Regions from separate parts of the Homo sapiens genome. Here region 1 is linked to region 2. Evidence: fine-mapped expression QTL. Tissue or cell type: cerebellar hemisphere. Region 2 holds a variant in brackets; the other region holds the start of a gene. All regions are shown on one strand. Distances are from middle to middle.

Region 1 (8,184 bases), 62 kb after region 2:
ACAGATGTAATGCTTTTGACACTTAAAAAAGTATCTCAATAGATTTGCAAAAATAAAGACATAAAGAGAATGTGTTAATCCCACCCTACAATCTCCATGCCTTCTACTCTCCAATTTATGTTGCACTAGTTGAGGGTTTATCCTCCTCAACACATTACCCTGTCCTGTTAATCTCGCCCTACAAACTTTTAATGGCTACCCATTCCCACAGATAAAATGACATATGTAAGTATTCAGTCAGCCAATATGTATCAAACAACCAGTATGAGTTATATATCCTATTCGTAATAGGGACATTGTAGTGAACAAAATCAACGTGGCCCCTGCCCCCAGGGGAAACAATCAGAGTAGGGAACAATTACATACAATGAAGGAAATATATGCTCTGATGACAGGGCACAGACTGGCTGGCAGCACCCAGAGCACCAACAAATCTACCCCTCCCAGTCCAGACTCCTTAGCACAGCATGCAAAACCTACAGGATCTATCCCAAACCCACCTTTCCTCCCCCATTATTTCCTCCTCCCCCAAATAATTGCACCCCCATTATTTCCTCCTCCTCCCAGCTCCAGCTACAGGGAACTTACGTGCCATTTCTCAATGAGCCATGTACTTTCACTCATCCACACTTTAGGCTTTTCCCCAGAGCCCAGAATGCTCTTCTATCCTTTCTTTCAAAATTCTAATTATCCTCAAGGCTCAACTCAAATGTCACTTCTTCAGCAAAACCAGCCCCAACCCCCAAGTCAAAATTAATCATCCCCTTCCTTGTTTCCCACACTTGGTTTCCATGTCAGGTATTTCATTCAGTCCTGTGGTTAGCTATTTTATTCTCTGTCTACTCACACCCACCAGCCGCTCAGGGAGATGCTGTGTCTTTGTCATTTGTCTGGGACTCCCAGTATTGAACACACAGTTGCACACAGAGTGGCCACTCAAGAAATGCCACATTGAGTGGATGGGCAAGACAGGTCAGACATAGGCAATGGATGTGAAACCTGCTCTATGTGGCTGGGTGGGTTCTGGTGTGATCATGGTAGGTAGGCTTAGGAAGGCTTCATGGAGAAAGTGAGTTTCAAGGGAAAAAGGAAATATTAATACGCAGGCAAGAGGTGAGAAGTAGAAGGGGCCAGAAGGTTTAATATAGTCTACATAAAGGAGAGCAAACAGGTTAGTTGGAACGAAGTGTCTGAGCCAGAGAAGACCAGAGGGGAGGGACACACAAGGGGCAACATCTCCTTGGAGGAAACTCATAAGGACACAGTGAGAACAGGTGGGAGCCCCAAAAATGATCATTTAGGAAAAGGATGAGCTTAAAAGGGAGGCTGGAGGAAATAATCAACCAGGAAGACACCAACTGTGTGGGAAACAATCAGGACCTGGGCTAAGACAGTAGCCGTAGAAACAGGAAGGAAAGAAAGAAGCTGGAGTCTGTGGTACGGGGAGAGCCAAGAATTGAGAGACTACGTGAATATGGAGGTCAAAAAGAGCAGCGATACCACGATTATACCCAGGTTACACCCCAGGAGGAAAGATGATCTTGTTTATCAACATATTACATTTCAGGGATCAGTACAGTGCCAGAGCAGTGTAACACAGCGAGACCTTCCCAGAGGTCAGGCTGAAGCCACACCGAGTGAGATTCTGTGACAGCAGAGTTATCAGGAGGGTCATCAATGGTTCAGAGAACTGTTAGGTGAAAAGGTACTGGCTGGTGACACCACAGAAATTCCCTGTGTAATTCATAGGAGGCATCCAGCCAGGACAGGATATGCTGGAGTACAATCAAGATTTCCCCAAGCTGTGCTTTCCCCACTTCTATTTTGTTTTTGTCAGTCTCTCTTTGCCCCCTCCCCTCTTCTCCCTTCATTATTACTCAAGGGCATTGTTTTCAAAGTTCTACCTCATCCCACCCTCATAACTGGTACCCAGGTTGTTCAGAGAACTGCACAGCTCTAGGGGGAGTTATTCACACAGACTACAAAGTGAACAGCAGCTCCCGAAGTTGTACAGTGCACCATCTGTGCAAACCTAGGCCATGGCCCTGCTTGACCCAGACACATAAAGTCAATTAATGTGTGTGGACTATAACAGCAGTGCGCCACTAACATACAACTTACAAGGGTCCCAGAGTGAAAAGTAAAGATTAAAAGCACTACCACCGGGTGTGGTGGAGCATGCCTGTAATTCCAGCACTTCAGGAGACTGAGGTGGGAGAATGACTTGAGCCCAGGAGTTTGAGGCTTCAGTGAGCTGTGGTTGTGCCATTGCACTCCAGACTGGGTGAAAGACTGAGGCTTTGTTTCAAAAATAAAAATAAAGCACTAGGATCAGGGACTATAGAAAAGATGCCATAAAACTAAGTGGAAGATCTGGAAGCTTTCTGCACATGGGCTGAAGCTGAAGCAATGTGGCTGGACGAGCTCTCTGAGGGAGTCAGTTCAGAAAATCCCTTCAAGGTGAAGGAAGAAAACACAGCAGCCAGCAAGGCTGGTTCATCAGCAGCAGGAGTCATGGGGGTTACAGCAGTGTGGGCCCCGGTGTCCCCAGCAGGGGAGTAGCTATAGAAGGCCTCCTCTGGAACCCTCTGACCATAAGTGCAGAGTAATCATTTGCCCTGTGTGCAGCTGGGACCTGAATGGCACGGACACCGCACATCATGCGCTCTGTGAAAGACTCAGAGCCGCCTTCTCTAGGGGCTTGGAAGAGAACCCCAGGCCAGGTCACAGGAATCATCTTGTCCTGGTTGACACTGACAACAAGGATCCAAGAATATCAAAACATTTAAGAGTCGGCCCTGGGGTACCATGGTGGGCACTTAATAAACATATTTCCGTGGCTGGCTAGGATCACCATGTGGATCTACGTGAAGATGGTGTCTGTGTATGGAGTGAATGGAAAATGGAGAGGGAAAAAACCCACAAAAGATTCCTTGGGTGGGGGGAGGGCGCTGGGCCAAAACCTCACGGGGCACCCAGGGTTTCCGGAGGGTGGAAGACGAGGGGATAGTAAGGGAGGGAAAGTAACAGGTAGAAAAAGTTGGAGAAGCCAGGCTTTTAGGTCTTTGTGTATAAATACGCAGCTAGGCAGCTTCAAGAAAAGCTAAAAGAAAAGACTGAGGCAGAAGATCTAGCCACGACGAAAATGACGGCAGGACTCGCCCGCCGATTTCCATTGTAACGCTCCGGGCCACCCTGTGACCTTCGTGGAAGGAAGTTGGAGGATTCTCTCGCTTCCCTGGAAAGGCAACTCCGCGCGGGTTGGGTGAAGAGCGACCCGGCCGGCGGCGGCTATGGCGGGGCATATCAAAGGCTCACATTTCCGCTCTCGAGCCGAGGACCCGGGCCGGGACCGCAGCACCTTCCGGGCCGGGAGTTCAAGGTGAGCCGGGCTCCCGGCGGCCAACAGGTAGGGAGACCTGGGGGAAAGACGGCCCCGGGCCACTCCCCCCGGCACATGTTGGGGGCGAGGCTCGGCCTGGCGGAGCGGCCACTTGCACCCCGCGCGCGGGGCCCGAGCGGATTCGCGCCAGGCTCCGGGCGGCCCCGCGGCCGCTCCCCGCCGGGCCGAACAACCCGCGCACCCCGGCCGGGTTTCCCGGGAGCAGCCCGGGCACCCTCGGCGCCCCAGGCCGCGCGCTGCAGCCGCGCCCCGCCGAGCCCTCCAGGGCCTCGCCAGTCCCCGTGTGCCCCGCTGAGCCCCGCGCACACTCACCCAACGACAGGAGCGCCAGCAGCAGCGGCCTCGAGGCCAGGCGCCCCATGCTCGCCCGGCGGGAGCGACTCTCCCCCTCCTCCTCCTTCCCCGCCGCCTCTCCTCCTCCTCCTCTTCCAGCTCCGGCTGCTCCAGAGTCGGCGCTCCTCCGCCTGGGCCGCGCGCCTGCTCCGCTCTCCTCGCGAGCCGATAAATCCCAGCGCTGGGGCGTACGTGCGCCCCTGGCTCCGCTCGCTCCCTCCCGCCTCCTTCCCTCCCTCCTCCAGCCGGCCGGGCCCGGGAGCCGGCCCCGCCGATCCGAGTGTGCAGCCCCGACCGCTTCCCGAAAGCAGAAGGGAAGAACCGCAGCGCCCGCCCGCGCCTCCCATCCGGCGCTTTGCCAGCAACAAACACAAACTTTCCCAAGCCCCTCCCCGCTCCAGGTAACGGAGGAAGAGCCGGGGCCACCCGCTTAAAGGCGAGGAGGCGTCGGAGCCCACCCTGCCATCCCCTCTGGGCCCCCACCCCACGAGAAACTTTCCTCCGACCTTTAAAAGTTGGCCTGGGAAAGACTCGTCTGGAAATCCCATCGCTTTAGCCCTATCCCGGGACACCCCGCGTTCCATCACGCTGGAGTCACCCACGCGTGTCTAGTCTATCCTCAGCCAACTCCCCGCTCGTTCGGCCTCTCGTCCTGAGCTAAACACCCCACCAACCAGCCGCTTGGCCTATGCCAAAAATTATGCAGATAGGAGCGAAGGAGCTGAAAGGACTTTTAAAGGCCACGGATTCCAACCTCTACCATACAGAGGCCTTAAGTGTTTCGGTGAGGTGCCCAAGGATTCACAGGGAAGGGGCAAAATCAGAACCCCGCTCTCCTGACTCTGCCCACTCCCCGGTGGCTAGGGTGGGCCTGTCTCCTTCCTTACCCAGCTCCCTCCCTCTCCTCGGCGCCTGTGGCACTGATTAGAACAGCACCCCACAAAGACACCCATTTAAAAAACAAACAAAACCCAAGTGTATTAATAGCTATAGTACTTCATATAGAATGTACTCTTAAGACTTAATATTTATTGCTCTAAGTGGACACCACTGATTGCCAATAAAGACTCATTTTTCCCCCTACAATAGAGTTTTGTGCTTTTGATTTGAATACAAAAGGCCCGACTTGGTTGGGAGAAATGGAGCATTCCTTGCTTGAAACTTAGCAAGCATGATTCAAACACGCAAGGAGCAGCACTGGTGCCCACTGCCCGTCACTGGGCTTTCATTCACATGCAAAACGGATCGCAGATGCTTATGCGGAAACTGCCCACACTGGGGAAGAACACTGCTTTTACTCTCATGCATCCGTCTTTCAACCAACAAATGTTTCTTATTTCCCCACTATCAAATGTGTGATTAGCCAGGTATCTTTGGAAAGAGACTTAAAAATTCATTCCTGGTGGTGCAACGTTATTGTACTTAATGCCACTGAATGGTACACTTAGAAATGTTTAAAATTGCCAGGCCTGGTAACTGGTACTTGTAATGCTAGCTACTCAGAAGGCTGAGGTTGGGGGGGCAGGGGGAGGCGGGGGGCAGGGATGGTGTTGCTTGAGGCCAGGAGTTTTTATTTGTTTTGTCTTCTTTCTTTCTTTCATTTTTGAGACAGGGTCTCAAAATGAGGATCTGTCACCCAGGCCGGAGTGCAGTGGTGCGATCAGGGATCACTGCTGCCTTGACCTCCCAGGCTCAAGCAATCCTCCCACCTCCACCTCTCAAGTAGCTGGAACCACAGATGTGTGCCACCACACTCTCGCTAATTGTTTTTATTTTTTGTAGACACTGGAGTCTCCCTATGTTGGCCAGGCGGGTCTCGAGCTCCTGGGCTCAAGCGATTCTCCCGCCTCGGCCTCCCCAAAGACTGGGATTACAGGTCTGAGCCACTGGGCTGGCACTTTTTCTTCTTTTTCTTTTTTCTTTCTTTTTTTTTTTTATTTGAGGCTAGAAGTTTGAGACCACTCGGGCAACATTGTGAGACACCGTCTCTAAAAAAAAATTTTTAAGGTTAAAATGGTAAATTTTGTGCTATGTACATTTTACACAATAATTTTTTTAAAATTTATTTCTGCCGCCAAGCCTTTCCTGGTTCTGTTCATACACACTGTAATTCCTTTCTCTTCCCCATCCCAATTCTTCCCTAGAATCTCGCAGGGAAGTTTCCCAATTTCATTCAATCAACCTTGAATTCAAGCCTAATGTTAGGCCTTGGAAGGTAGTGGAGCTTCAGAGAAATGTGAGGCCTGGCACCTTCAGAAGCTCAGATTTCAGCTCATCCTCCATCTTTCCTTTTCTTAACCACCCAGAACGCTTAATGTTTGAACCACACATTGTGGCACTTGGTCACATTCAGTTTAGCAAAATGTATACACTACCCCCATCTCTGTCTAATAATGCATGGGCCTAAGAGGCTGTCACATTTTCACCTTGTATCCCACCTTATGGCAGAGTAGATGTTTTAAAAATTCTTTTGTTTAATAAACAATGTGTGTCAGGGACTGTGCCTAGCACATGGTAGGTCCCAATGTATATTTATAGAGTGAATTAATGGCAGACACTGGGCTAGATCCTGGGGGTACAGGGATGAAGCAGACAGTTCTTGCCCTTGAGGAGTCGACATTTTGTGCATTGTGATTGCATATGCAAGGTAGAGTTGTGACACCACAAGGGAGCGGCCAGTCCAGGAGGAGGCTGTCAGAGAAAGCTTCACAGAGGGGATGACTATGCAACGAGTCTTGAAAAATTGGTAGGTCTTTAGCTGTGGAGTGTAAGGATAAGCTTACAATAGATGTTGTGTATTTAATATGATAGAGATTCTTCTCACCTCACCCACCCCCAGGTATTATTAAATTAATGGTGTATCTTACAATCATGGAAATAACAGTGGTTAACCATTGAAATGATGAGAATAAATAAAATTGTCTAGGTAAGGCAGGTAGAATGAGGACTGAAGTGGGTAGCCTGCTGGTGGCTGGCAGTTAAATGTCATGGGAGTTAACCAAAGAGCCACTTTTGTAGCAAAAAATAAGCATAAATTAATAAGTCTAGACTGTTGGTTATAACCACCACACCCTTTGCACCTTCCTGACTACCAATGGATAAAGGAAGAAACACAGCAGACTGGCACAATTTGTTAATTCATGACTCTGGAATCTGATGATGCTTTTACTATGAAAGATATTTATTTACCAGAGTGAGTAACCTTCTATACAGGTAAGGCTTTTGCCCCAACCAGTTGTTCTCCTATCTTAGTCTATAGGCTTGCCTGGGGCAGGAAGACTCACTCTCCAGCAATTCTAATTGATTCACGCCCACCCCCAAGGAGAGTACCGACATGGGTTTCTTTTCTCCAATCATAGTGCCCCCAAGGGGCACTGGTCACAGCAGTCCGACATTATGGTCTTTTGGTCACACATGTCTTTCTGCAGGTGATACCCCTAAAACCTCACAAGAGTCCTCATACTGTTACGCCAAACAAGTTTTCCCTGCTGAGATCAGGCAAAAACATCATCATGTTATTTAACTTTGTGAATGAAAATGTTAAAAGGTTCCCAGTGAATGAAATTGCTGATTGTTCTAAGACTCACCTAGACTTGGAGTTGTTGGCCCTGCCACCTCTGGCAGCCTGTACACGCACACAGTCTCCAAATGACCCTGACCCCTACCTACTTCAGCAGGGGCTCAGGGGAAGGAGTATATTCCATGGCACCGTTTCATTCCACTAATCATTTTCACTCACAGTCTTCCTTGTTCTGTGTCCAGATGTATATTTTCCCAGTTAAAGTTAAACAGAGATTACTAAACAAAAAGAAATTTAGGATTATATTATAGAATTAGAAAATGAAATTAAAAGTTAGAAAGGGAGGGGTGGGAAGAGGAGGCCTTTATTTCCCCACGAGTGAGAGTCCTGCAATACTGGTGAGATTAGTGGGGAAGCTGTAGAATGCTCATGTGACAAGTTTGAAAACAGCAAGGGACCTCATCTGTTTGGTATGGGCTAAGCAGGGTCCTGCCTGAGGGCTGGTCCTGCTCGTCACCACCCAACTATCAATTCTCCCCATCTTTTCTTCAGCCCTAAAAGACTGAAGTGGGACATGGTGGAGAAAGTGTTCTTAAATGACTTAGAACTGTTCCAGATTCCACCTCCACCAGGCCAAAAGTGCCTCCCTGGGAAGCTACCCCACATAGCATCACGCCTGCAGGAACACTGGGGTGGAGAAGTGTGAGGAGAAAATAAGGAATTGGATGGAGGTGAGCCTTTGGCAATAAAAGCTCTCCCCAAGACTGAGGCTATTTCCTATGTTACGAGCAGACAGGGCCCTTGCCCTGGAGGGGCTTATCATCTAATTTAATGCATGAAAAACCTGGAATACAGTGAAGGACGGGGAGGAGATGGAAACCACAAGAGCAAAGGAATTGAAAGAAAGGTAAATGGATAAGAGAGACAC
Region 2 (8,184 bases):
GTGAGGTGTCAGTCTGCCCCTACTGGGGGGTTCCTCCCAGTTAGGCTACTCGGGGGTCAGGGACCCACTTGGGGAGGCAGTCTGTCCGTTCTCAGATCTCAAGCTGCATGCTGGGAGAAGCACTACTCTCTTCAAAGCTGTCAGACAGGGACATTTAAGTCTGCAGAGGTTTCTGCTGCCTTTTGTTTGGCTATGCCCTGCCCCCAGAGTTGGAGTCTACAGAGGCAGGCAGGCCTCCTTGAGCTGCAGTGGGCTCCACCCAGTTCGAGCTTCCCTGCAGCTCTGTTTACCTACTTAAGCCTCAGCAATGGCGGGTGCCCCTCCCCCAGCCTCGCTGCCACCTTGCAGTTCGATCTCAGACTGCCGTGCTAGCAATGAGCGAGGCTCTGTGGGCATGGGACCCTCCGAGCCAGGTGCAGGATATAATCTCCTGGTGTGCCGTTTGCTAAGACCATAGGAAAAGCGCAGTATTAGGGTGGGAGTGACCCAATTTTCCAGGTGCTGTCTGTCACAGCTTCCCTTGGCTAGGAAAGGGAATTCCCTAACCCCTTGCGCTTCCCGGGTGAGTTGATGCCTTGCCCTGCTTCGGCTCACGCTCGGTGGGCTGTACCTACTGTCCTGCACCCACTGCCCAACAAGCCCCAGTGAGATGAACCCGATACCTCAGTTGGAAATGCAGAAATCACCCGTCTTCTGCATCGCTCACGCTGGGAGCTGTAGACTGGAGCTGTTCCTATTTGGCCATCTTGGAACTGCCCCCTGACTTTGGGCATTTTGTTCACTCATCTATTCCCAGTATCTAGAGCAGCACTTGTATACCAAAGGAACTCAATAAATATCTGAATGAATAAATGAATGAAAGACACAAGAGAAGGAGCTAGACTCTGCCAGTGGGTTTCAAATCAGCCTGAAATAGGCCTGGAAGTGACCCCACTGACTGTCTTGACAGCTCAGATTCAAATGTCTGGATGTATTTCCAAACCATCTAGCAGATAGATGCATCCACTCAACATGTATTTATTAAACACTTAATGAGTACAAAGTACTGGGCCAGGCAGTTAGGGGATAAATAGATAATCCTATCCCTAACCCACATCTGTGTAACACAGTGCGGATGATATGAGAAACATTTACAGAAAGCAACATGGTGAAGGGGTGAGGATGGAGTGAGGTACCTGGATCCAGTGCTGCTCCCTCGACAGTGATGATACAGAACAATTTGATCAGATCTCCCCGAATTACTGATGGTGTGTCTGAATGCACAGAAGCATTAAATATAGGACCTGGAAAAAAAGTAATGCCAGCCTCATTATTCTCTTTCATGCTTTTGTCAAATTCCATTCTTTGCACTCTAAGGGGCATCAAAATGTGGTTCTCTTCCCTGGGAACTGGTCTAGAAACTCACAAAATAGGTGTTCCAAGGTTGCCTCTCTTCTATTCAGAGAGACATGGGCATTAGGCACATCCAAGTGAGCTTCATCTTAAGATTACAACCAAAATAGAACTCTTCTGAAAGAATTACTTTTGCTCTGGCTTTTCTTTCTGGTGGCCACAGTGACCTCATTCGAAAGCTACCCTCCACCCTGGAACAGCCTGGGCTGGTTCTAGTTCAACATGGTTCACTTCTAGGCCAGGGTGGCTTAGGGATCAGAGGAACAGGGACTGAAGCAAGAAAGCTTTTGGTTCCAGTGGAGTGAGTGGTCTCACTGCACTGTGCTGGGTGCTGGGGAAAGGGGCCCTGTTACCAAGAGGCTGAAATCTGGTAAGAAGACAGACATGTCAACAATGATATTTCTATGAGGTGTGGTGGTAGCACTCAAGGCACAGCTTCAGCATGCCAGGGAAAATGGAGGCAGCCTGGATATGCCTTTTTCCTTTTTTTTTTTTTTTTTTTGAGATTGAGTCTTGCTCTGTCACGCAGGCTGGAGTGCAGTAGTGTGATCTCGGCTCACTGCAACCTCCACTTCCTGGATTCAAGTGATTCTCCTGCTTCAGCCTCCTGGGTAGCTGGGATTACAGGCACATGCCACTACGCCCCGCAAATTTTTGTATTTTTAGTAGAGACAGGGTTTCACCATGTTGGCCAGCCTGGTCTCGAACCCCTGACCTCAAGTGATCTGCCCGCCTCCCAAAGTGCTGAGATTACAGGTGGATATGCCTTTAAGAGACTACTGAGGTTGGGGAGGCTATGTGTTGTGGGAGAGTTGGGAGTATATGGAAACTTTCAGTACTTTTTGCTGAAAAGCTGGGAACCTAAAACTGCTCTAAAAAATAAAGTCTGGGCTGGATGCAGTAACTCATGCCTGTAATCCCAGCTCTTTGGGAGGCCGAGGCAGGTAGGTCACTTGAGCCCAGGTGTTCAAGACTAACCTGGGGAACATGGCAAAATCCCGCCTCTACAAAAATTAGCTGAGCACGGTGGTGCACACCTGTAGTCCCAGCTACTCAGGTGACTGAGGTAGGAGGAAGATTGCTTGAGCCTGGGAAGTTGGGGCTACAGTGAGTCAAGATCGTGCCACTGTCTCAATAAATAAATAAATAAATAAAATTAAAATAAAGTCTGGTTAAAAAACAAAACAAAAAAACCCTACCCAAACTGGGTTTGTCTTACATGCCTCCCTGAAAACGCTGCAGGCAGAATTATTATTTTTAACTCACTTATGAATTCCTCTTAGGTGAGAACATTCCATAGCTTTCAGCTTAGCTAATCCTAAGAGTTCAATGTTTACTTTATCCCAACTCCTAAAATCTAGGAACAAGGCAAACCTAAAAGAAATTCACAGAACATCAATGCTATGGGACTCCCCTTGGGTTTCCTGGGAAGCAACGATTGAAGGCCCTAGGTGCTGACTGTAAAACTCATTAGAAGTTAAGAATATAGGTATTACTACTTCTTGTTCAGATTGCCAGAAAGAAACAAGTATCCTAAAGTATCTTTTTTAAACTTGCAGAAGAAATGGCCATGACAGAGGGAGTAACATGATGAAAGGGCTATATTTTCATTTTGACATGATGACTAATAAGATGAATTCATCAGATTGCTTTCCTAACCAAGTATATAAATATTTTTTGTTTTCCTGGGAGAAAGGTAAAGGATGGTTATAGAATATTGAACCCTAGTGGGGGTTAGGCAGCTCTGGGTAGAAACTGCTGAGAGTTCTGATTATTCAGGGAACAGCAGGGGCGTACGTAACTCTAAGGGGATAAAGAATTGACAGAATGGCTGTTCCAGGAAATGGGGAAAGGGATGAAAGCAAAGACAAGGAAGCCTGACCTACTTCTGGACATCATCCCCTTCAATTAACTCAGCTCTCAGCCCTGGCTCCCTCGGGCCTTATACCCTGGACTTGCTCTGCCTGGAGCAGTGAGGTGGGGCAGGATTAGGCCAAACTGCCTGGAGTTGGCTCTGTGTGGTGACTGGGGACACTTATGCCATAGGCGGCCA[C/T]CTGTCAGTGAGTACAGGTTAGCAGCAACCATGGTGAGCAAGGGCGGGCAGGGGGGTCACATTTTTCTCAGATTAGAAATTTCATGGTAATACACAGAACTACACTGAGGGGCTTTTCTAGTGCTCAGGCCCCTTCTAAGAGAACATAAAATGACAAAACATTAAGAAATTCTCATGGTTTTATCTCATGGATTATCTATTTAATTTGAAGCAGCAAAGAAGACTTACTTAATTCGAACAAATTTCACTTTTTCTTTATGTTTCCAAAGAAAACCCAAATACCTCCTAGGTCACGTTACAGTTCTCACTTCCCCTACTGGACGTGGGAATCAACAGAGCATTTGTGCTGCAGCTCACAAGGCAGACAAGGACTGGGGAAAAGGCCTGCATTGTGGTGAGCTATTCACAGGAGTGGATTTCCTCCTAATGAAATCAGCAGCTCACTGTTAATATGGGTCATTATCCCAGGCTTAGAAATATTTTCATTATGGTCAATTTCTGTGGTAATTCTGTTTTTGTGAGGGGATTTGTCTGGTTAACTTCACAGATGACAGGGTATGGTACAGAGAGTTTAAATGAACAACCGGAGTCACTAGGGGTCCCCCAATTCCTAGTCTGCAGAGAGTATAGGAACTACTTAACTTTTAAATACAAACATTGACATAAACCATGTTCCAACCTTGGCCTCTAAAAAAAGCTGTTAGTGGCAGTTTTTTTAATGAAAGCAAAAGTTACAGACCATCTGCATGTCCATCAATAGGGTAATGGCTAAGCAAATTCAAGTATGTAAAGTCATTAAACGTGGTATTAATGTTTACCTAGAATTGGTGACAATATGGAAAGTGCTGATCTTATAACACTAAAGGGAGAAAAGCAGGTCCTAAAATTGTATGTACAGCTTGATCTCAAAGTCATGAAGAAAATATACAAGAAAAACATTCTAGGAAGATGAACAACACAAGTTAACAGTCTCTGGTAGGATGATGGATAAGTCTCTTTCCCTTCTTTCTACATTACTATATTTTCAAATTTTCTATATATTACGAAGAAAAAAATTTATTATTCTTCTTTTAAAAGGCCAAAGCCTACACTATCATATTTAAATACCATTTTCCTCTTGACACTTTGAATCAGTAAAACCCAGCACTCAGTAGGGCCCCTTGGTTTTTAATACCAAAAAGCAGGTGCCCTGAAATCAGGGGACAGGAAGGTGAACATGGGAAGAACCCCTTTGTTGCGTGTCTTAAGGTATGTCACGGATTTTTAGGAAGCAAAGGCTGTTCAGTTTCAAATCAATGTTTGCTGGTGGCTATTCAGGGCTATAGTATTGTTCTGGGTGCTGAATTTGATGGCAGCTTCTCCTAATTAAAATGTGAACTGGCCATGACAACTCTGTGGATTAAATAAAATAAAACCTTAGGCAATCTATTCAACCTGGAAGCTACAGCGGTTTTATCTGTTATGCTGAGATTTAAAGAACTGAGGAATAGACTCAACATCCATTCCTCACCCAGAAATAGATACAAAATACTCTGTGTCTCCCCTTTTCCATATAAGAGTTTAAAAGAAAGATCAAATAACAAATGTAAAACAAGATGGAACAGATTCCTACAGACAGCAAAACAAATACACAAATAAAGGACAAAAACCACATAATAATCTCATCTCAACAGACAGAGAAAAAGCATCTGACCACATTCAACACCTTTCCATGACAAAAATACTCAACAAACTAGGAATGAAAAAAAAACTAAGAATGGAAGGAAACACACTAGGAGTGGAAGGAAACTTCCTCAATCTGATAAAGGGCATCTATGAAAATCCCACAGTGAACATGATAGTTAAAGGTGAATGAGACTGAACGCTTTCCCCCTATGATCAGAAACAAGACAAGAATGTCCACTTGTGCTACTTCCATTCAACACTGTATTGGAGGTTCTGGCTGGGCAATTACTCGAGAAAAAGAAATAGAAGATATTCAGCTTGGAAGAGAGAAGTAAAACTAGTTCTATTCACAGATGACATAATCTTGTATTTTAAAAATTGTAACAAGTCCCCCAAATTTAGAATTAATTAGAATTAATAAACAAGTTCAGCAAGGTCACAGGATACAAGATCAATATACAAAACCCAGTTGTACTTCTATGAAACTGCAATGAATAAACAAGCCAAAAAGTAAATTCAGAAAGCAATTCTATTTACAATAGCATCAAAAAGAATAAAATACTTACGATAAATTTAACAAAAGAAACAAGATCTGTACACTGAAAACTACGAAACACCATGGAAAAAATTTAAATACCTAAATAAATGGAAAGATAGCCCATGTTTATGAACTGAAAAACAGTATTGTTAAATGGCAATGCTTTCCAAATTGATCTACAGAGTTAACACAATCCCCATCAAAGTCCCAGATGCCTGGACTGTAGAAATTAACAGGCGGATCCTAAAAGTCACATGGATGTACCAGGCATCCAAAATAGTCAAAACAATCTTGAAAAAGAACAAAATTGGAAATCTCCAACTTCTTGATTTCAAAACTAACTACAAAGCTACAGTAATCAAACCATGTGATATTGGTATAAGAAGAGAAATCTAGATCACTGAAATAGAATTGACAGTCTAGAAATAAACCCTACATTTATGATTAAATTATTTTTGACAGGGGTGCCAAAACAAGTCAATGGAGAAATAATACACTTTTCAATAAATGGTGCTAGGACAACTGGCTATCTCCATGCAACATAATAAAGTTGGATTCCTTCTTCTTAACCACATACAAAAATTAACATGAATCATAGCCTAAAATGTAAGACCTAAAACTATAAAACTCTTAGAAGAAAACATAGGTGTAAATCCTCACAGCCTTAGATTAGGCAGTGATTTCTTAGACATAGCAAAAACACAAGCAACAAAAGGAAAAAAAAAAAAAACAGATAAACTGGACTTCATCAAAATTTAAAAATTTGATGTTTCAAGAGACATCATTAAGAAAGTGAAAGACAACACACAGAATGCGAGAAGATACTTTCAAATAATAATGTTTACGGCAGCACTATTCATAATAGCCAAAAAGTAGAGATAGTCTAAACGTCCATCAACAGATGAACAGATAAACAAATGTGGCATATCCATACAATGAAATATTATTCAGCCATGAAAAGGAATGAAGTACTGATACCTGCTACAACATGAATGGACCTTGAAAACATTATGCTAAGTGAAAAAAAGCAAGTCACAAAAGTCCACATATAATATGATTCAATTCATATGAAACACCCAGAAGAGGCAAATCTATAGAGACAGAAAGTAAATTAGTGGTTGCCAGGGGCAAGGGCATGGGGGCATGGGAATGATTACTAATGAGAGTGGAGTTTCTTCTTGAGGTGATTAAAATGTTCTGGAATTAGATAGTAGTGATAGTTGCACAACTCTGTGAATATACTAGAAACCACTAAATTGTACACTCTATATATAGTAAATTTTATAGTATGTGAGTTATATCTCAATAAAGCTGCTATTAAAAACAAACAGATACACAATAAAGGAGGCCTATGCTTTCTCCAAATCTAAGGGCTTAAATCAATATTTACCCTTTAATTTAAAGGTCAAGAGATCTTAGAAGATTATTTCACTATGGTATATATTATATACCATAAAAGGCTATAATAATAGAAAATAATATTAATAGAAAAACTTTATTAGAGTCTAGCTTACCTTTAATATAAATGCTAATCATTTAATTCAACAAATATCTTGCATTCATTGTATGATTCAATTGACACCTGAATTTTTACAGATAAGTATTAATTTATACATTCAGAAATTTCTAACTAAAACCCAGGAACCCAGGGCAGAGTTAGTGAAAACACTTAGTATTAAACTCACAAATGATAATCCTTTGCATTCATATTCTAAATAAGATTGGGGTTTAAATACTTTTAAATCATCTTCCTACTGAAACACACACATACACAGACAGAGGATGTTAAAGATCTTCCACTTTGGCAAGTCATTTAACACCTTGGGAGGCTCAATTCCCTCCTCTCTTTCTTTATACTCCACTATGTTCCCTAAAGTATTTGAAGTAGCTGAGCTTCAGCTCATTTTCTTAAAATGAAAGCAGAAATGAAAACATACATTCATCAAAAATTTGTACATGAATGTCCACAGCAGCATTATTTGTAACAGTCAAGAACTGGAAACACCCAAATGTCCATCAACTGATGAATGGATAAACACAATGTGGGATATCCATACGATGGAATCTTATTCAGTCATAAAAATGAACAAAGCACTGATACATGCTACAATATGGATGACCCTTGAAAACATTTTGCTCCAAAAAAGAAGCCAGATAGAAAGGCCACATATTATATTCCATTTATGTGAAATGTCCATAATAGGCAAAATGTATAGAGACAGAAAGTAGATCATGGTTGCTGCAGAATGGGAGGTGGGGAATGGAGTGTGAATGGAGGGTATTGGCTAAGGGGTCCAGGTTTCTTTTGGGGTCATGAAAATGTTCTAAAACTGGTCGTGGTGATGATCACACAACTTTGTGAATATATGAAAAGCCACTGAATTACACACTTTAAACAGGTACATTGTATGGCATATGAATTGCATCTTAACAAAGCTGTTTTAAAAAATGAGGGCATCTGATCAAAACCCTAGGGTCTCTTCTAGCTCCACCTATGATTCAACAGGGCTCACTGCTCACCTGAGGTTTGGAAGTC

The links. PIP is the estimated chance that this variant, and not a neighbour inherited with it, causes the effect.
Region 1: it holds the start of PTGFRN, and the variant in region 2 is fine-mapped to the expression of PTGFRN in cerebellar hemisphere (GTEx, PIP 0.97).

What each region holds. Positions count from the first base shown.
Region 1 is chr1:116,905,784-116,913,967 of GRCh38, reverse strand. It overlaps PTGFRN (prostaglandin F2 receptor inhibitor), which reads right to left and starts at 4,052. Exons shown (of 9, transcript NM_020440.4): 1 at 3,716-4,052. The coding sequence starts at 3,764.
Region 2 is chr1:116,967,315-116,975,498 of GRCh38, reverse strand. It overlaps PTGFRN (prostaglandin F2 receptor inhibitor), which reads right to left. Exons shown (of 9, transcript NM_020440.4): 6 at 8,169-8,184; 7 at 1,176-1,283. Among named protein-coding and RNA genes, the nearest start is that of CD101, 30 kb to the left of the region's middle. The variant C/T (reference allele first, on the strand shown) is at 3,446.